2 separate regions of the Homo sapiens genome follow, and region 2 is linked to region 1. The links come from fine-mapping of genetic effects on gene expression. Tissue or cell type: monocytes after R848. Region 1 holds a variant in brackets; the other region holds the start of a gene. All regions are shown on one strand. Distances are from middle to middle.

The links. PIP is the estimated chance that this variant, and not a neighbour inherited with it, causes the effect.
Region 2: it holds the start of IFT74, and the variant in region 1 is fine-mapped to the expression of IFT74 in monocytes after R848 (Quach 2016, PIP 0.95).

What each region holds. Positions count from the first base shown.
Region 1 is chr9:26,998,104-27,000,790 of GRCh38, reverse strand. The region is part of intron 8 of IFT74 (intraflagellar transport 74); the gene reads right to left. It overlaps LRRC19 (leucine rich repeat containing 19), which reads left to right. Exons shown (of 5, transcript NM_022901.3): 2 at 1,088-1,177; 3 at 2,550-2,687. The coding sequence starts at 1,097. Among named protein-coding and RNA genes, the nearest start is that of LRRC19, 6.2 kb to the left of the region's middle. The variant G/AG (reference allele first, on the strand shown) is at 1,021.
Region 2 is chr9:26,955,125-26,957,811 of GRCh38, reverse strand. IFT74 (intraflagellar transport 74) reads right to left here and starts at 1,400. Exons shown (of 20, transcript NM_025103.4): 1 at 1,296-1,400. It overlaps IFT74-AS1 (IFT74 antisense RNA 1), which reads left to right and starts at 1,505. Exons shown (of 2, transcript NR_121605.1): 1 at 1,505-1,685; 2 at 1,797-2,032. RefSeq lists a silencer at 1-121 and enhancers at 718-1,452, 1,453-2,188.

The DNA of each region.
Region 1 (2,687 bases):
CATAGGTAAACATGTGCCACGGTGGTTTGCTGCACAGATCAACCCGTCACCTAGGTATTAAGCCCAGCATCCATTAGCTATTTTCTGATGCTCTCCCTCTCGTCTAATTTACTGTACATTTAAAAACAGCTAGAAGAGAATTTGAATGTTTCCATTATAAAGAAAAGACAAATATTTAACGTGTTGGATATCCCAAGTACATTAATTTGATCTTTAAAAATTATATGAATGCACTACTTTATCACATGTACCCCAAAACTATGTATATCTACCACGCCTCAATAAAATTTTTAAAAGTTACCATGGGGGGAAAAAGAGTGCTAAAGATTCTCATCTCCCACAGTTTTAAGTCAAGAATAATAGATAGATAATGCCAATAGATAATGCCTAAAATTGAAAAAATCAAGACCATCAATATAAGCATATACTTAAACATGCATAAATATACGTTTTCCTGAATTTCTTTTGTGCACTTCTATATTAAATTTTTAAAATTTACAACCACTTAAATTGCTTTAAAGCTCCTTTCATGAGATCTAGAAACTAATGAGACACACTTAAAAATATTAATTTTCTCTAAAAAGAAAAAATAGAAATCAGTCTCATTCTTCAAAGGGGCTTTCTAGTTTATTAAGATCAGAGTGCAAGGATGGTGAATGGCCATGCACTTGTTTCACATTTTATGTATTTCAAGAAAAAGTAGATTTGAAAGGCCAGGGTAAGTGGCTCATATCTATAATCCCAGCACTTTTCAAGGCCACGCCAGTGGCTGGGGGGAAATGGCTCGCACCCAGGAGTTTGATACCAGGCTGAGTAACACATGGTGACCCCATCTCTACAAAAATTTTTAAAATTAGCCAGGCATGGTAGTGCATGCTTGTGTTTCAGCTACTTAGGAAGCTGAGTTGGGAGGACTGCTTAAGCCTGGGAGATCAAGGCTGCAGTGAGCTGTGACCATGCCACCAGGTCTGTGTGACAGAGTGAGACCCTGTCTCAGCCAAAAAAAAAAAAAAAAAAAAA[G/AG]AATAAACAGATTCAAAAGAGGGAAAAATAAAAATGTCCTTAATGAAAATACTCTCTTTTCTATCAGGTCTGCAACATGAAAGTCACAGGCATCACAATCCTCTTTTGGCCCCTCTCCATGATATTATTATCAGACAAAATCCAGTCTTCTAAAAGAGTAAGTTTTTACAATCAAAATAGTAAAAATATTTTCAAAGGTACATTTTCTGTATATTTAGTAAAATATAAAAGGGCAATAAGAAAGCAAAGAAAATCTGACCTACTAAAATTAAGAGTTTATTTAGCTCTGTATATCCAAATTCCAATTTGACAAAAGCAGCCTTCATTTATAAAAACTGAGTTCTTTAAAAGTTGATTAAAGGGAGAGATCTGAAAATTTTCACTATAAAATCAGAAATTAGTTTTAAGAGTAAAATCTTGTTTAAAATGTAGGAAACTTTTTTTTAAAAAGCACATATTTATGAGAGAAACTGCTATTGAATTATTATTGGTGAAAAAATCTAACTGCAAAAACAGTAATAAACCAGAACTATTCTTAGTTCTATTTATTCTTAGTTTACTGTTCAGTAAAAACAAGAACTATTTCTTTCTTTCCATCTATATCCACATAAAGAATTTCAGATTGTGTGGCTCTTTAAATTCAATACCTGGCTCCATTTCTGATAAAAGATAAATATTTCCTTTTAAAACACCAAACTTTGAGCTGTTAAACCCAGAGAGTTTAAGAGAGTTAAACCAGAGAGTTTATTCAGACTGATTGATTGATTGCTTGCTTTTGAGACGGAATCTCGCTCTGTCGCCCAGGCTGGAGTGTAATGGCATGATCTCAGCTCACTGCAACCTCCGCCTCCTGGGTTGAAGCGATTATCCTGCCTCAGCCTCCCAAGTAGCTGGGATTACAGGTGCTTGCCACCATGCCCGGCTGACTTTTTTTTTTTTTTGTATTTTCAGTAGAGACAGGGTTTCACTGTGTTGGACAGGCTGGTCTTGAACTCCTGACCTCAGGTAACCCGCCTGCCTCAGCCTCCCAAAGTGCTGGGATTACAGGCGTGAGCCACCATGCCCAGCCCATTTATTAATTATTGAACAGCCCTAGGTATAATGTTGTTAGCTCTGCTGATTTTAAAAACACATATAGTTTAAAATAATTTCCTCACTATAAAGCAATTGTGCACACTGGAATATTAAATGTTAACAGAATTATTATTTACCATACATTTCCACATATATAAATGGGAATATTCCAGTAGCATTACTTTCTGTAATGATCATGTAATAACAGTTGGAAAATACCCGTATGACAAATTGGAATCTCTTTGTTCAATTGTATGTATCAGAATATCCTTAATTTTTAGTATTTCATCCCAATAAAGAAAAAGATTTGCTCTACTGTAACACCAAAATATTAGATAGTAGGTTTTTTTCCCAAAATAACGTCCTTCTAATGTCTAAGTGCTTAAATATGAAATTTGGTGAAATTCTATTAATTTTTTTTCTGATTAATGCCTTTCTTTTTTTTGTTTTTCTAGGAAGTCCAATGTAATTTTACTGAAAAAAATTATACCTTGATTCCAGCAGATATCAAGAAAGATGTTACTATACTTGATCTCAGTTATAACCAAATTACTCTTAATGGTACAGACACAAGAGTTCTACAGACATACTTT
Region 2 (2,687 bases), 43 kb after region 1:
AAAAAAAAAAAAGGCAAACAAAGCGTGTGTTGGACTAAAATGATTTCTCTGTTTCTACACTCTATGTCCAGTACTACTTTTCTGACTTTTCTTAGCATTACTCGTAATCAGTCCTTGGACTGCTTCTATCCTTTCTACAGTCATGCATCTTTATAACTCCAACTATGTGTACGGCTCACTAATCAATGTCTACAGTTCTGCCCTTTCAACTGGGCACCAATTTTGAGTTTTCAATTGTTTATCTGAAATTTCCATTCAGATATCTCATTTGAATATGTTCACATCAATCTTCCTGACCCCACTAGCTCCCTGATTCTAATTCCTTGCCATTTTGAACTCTATGTACAAAGCAAAAGAATTTCAAATGGAAAAAGGAATTTCATGAAATGACTCTTTGAAAAGGAAGACGGTGTATGATCAAAATGGTTTTTCCAGAAGAAAACGAGTACAATAAACATCTCTTTCCAGTGGAAAAGATATTACTCTAGGTTTCCTGCTAACTTTGAGAAAATGTACAACATAAAAAATTTCACCCAATTTTCTTTGCCACCGTTTTACTGTGGTGAAAAAAAGCTTACCATTATATTATTACCAGTGGGATTAAGAGGCGGGCATTAGCAACAAATATACCACTAACTTCGGGGTTATTCAATCAAAGAGTCACACAATTTCCAATTATTCACACAGAGAGGCAGCCTGGCCTTTGGATCCAGAATGATTAGCGATACAAACTAGTGCTGACAAAGTTAGCGGCTGCATAATCTTGCCACCTTAATTAACCCCTCAGGATTTCATCTTCTGTAAAACAGAAGGGTGACATCTACCTTGCAGGGCTGTTGTGAAGACGATAAGTATTACATTTAAAACATCTGCTTCTAATTATTATTACTATCGTTATCCTCCCTAAGCCAACCATTCTCACACAGGTGAATAAGTGGAAAGTTGCTAACTGCCCGCACTGTGATCAACAGACAGAAATAAGTCCCTTCCACTGTAAGAGGCAGAAATGTATTGCTTTGACTAAAATCCTTCAGCCCATCGCGGTCCTTCCCTCTGCTCTGTGCTTGGCGGGTCTCCTGCGGGGGGTCGGGGAGGGGTCGGGCTGTTGGAGGAGGTCTGTTCGCAACCTTCGCTCGACTAGAATTGGTACATGCCTGGCCTGGCTACAGGCCCGACGGTAACAGTTAGCTAAGACCGAGTTTGAATTTGTTTTGTTTGGAGCGGATCAGCATCTCCAAGGCAAGAGAACAGACGTGGGAGGGAGGGAGGAAGAGATGGGACCCGGGGATTCTCACCTCCGCCGGCGCGGAAGGAGGGCAGTTGCCCGGCTCGCGGGTGCCTTAACTTCTTTCTGAGGCCCACGCTCAGTTTTCCTCGGCTCTCAGGCCTACCCACTAACTGCCGTGCGCCGCGGCGTATCCCGGCAACGGGGGCGGGATAGCGGAGGCTCCTCATCCTGAGTGACCAATCCTCCGCCTCAGCCCTTGGTTACACACGGAGCTCTCGCGAGAATTGAGGATATGTTTGTTTCTTCACCACGCTTCAGTGCTTTTTGGAAAAAGTGGAAAACAGCGGGGCGGCTGGAAGACAAACATTTTATGTGAACGTTTGGTTTTCTTGATAATCAGAGCAACCTCCGTGTGCCTTACTTGAAGTAACTCTAGCGAGTTTTGCTATGTCCCTAGGTAACCTCACGTCGGCTAACGTTGTTAACAGGTTACATTTGAAGTTAAGTGGTAGGCAGCATTGTGCAATTTTCTAAACTCCTAATTTGTGGTAGTTTTCCTTCCTATTAGGACGGCATAGCGTACACAACGCATCATGAAGTATGGATGCGATTCTGGCACCAACTGTTCCGTTCCTGCTTTCACCAGAAGCTTTGCGTCTTTAAGCTTCCTTTCATTAGAATTTGGATCCAAGTTTGTGGGGAAGACTGTGAATTCAATGGAAAGTGTCCTTTTTTTTTTTTTTTTTAATTTAAGAACTACTTCACCTTAAATCCCACTTCTCTAATAAAATAACTTTTACTGTATGTTTCCTTCCAATCTTCATTGATAACAGCTTAAATGTGATTGCATATGTATTGGGATTTTAACATTATTTTACACATTATTTCCAACTTGCCTGCCTTCGAGGAGTTAAAAATCAATACAACACAAAATGAGATAATGTTATGTGGCTGAATTCTCCCTTAGTTTGTGAAACATTTTCATGTAATTATCTCATTTGAGCTCACCCTATTTGCAGTGGCCATTTGTCATCCTTTTGGCAGAGTTTCTCCCTTACCCTGCCCCCCAACACCCTTACAGGAACTGAAAGTGACAGATACTGGCTTTCCTAGTCTTCCTTATTACTGGGACATGAGTATTATTGCTTGCTAGACTCTCCAATCTAATTTGGTGGACTCAACTCAAACTTGAATGACAACCAGAAGCAGGACTTCAGAGAGTCTGTTGAAGTAAGGGTGACAGCCGCAGTAACTACATCGTTTCCGAGACTGCAATGTTCTATCACCAGCAACCAGTGTCCAGCATCAGTGTGTTGTTGCAAGCTGCAGTGTTAGGTACTCAGAGGCTTTATTGGGAGGAGAACCTCTAGCTTGTTTCTTCAGCTTCTGGGAGAGTCTGTGAGCTGCTTAATGTCCTTTAATAAATTCATTTTCAGCTTTTATATCATTTATAGATGAT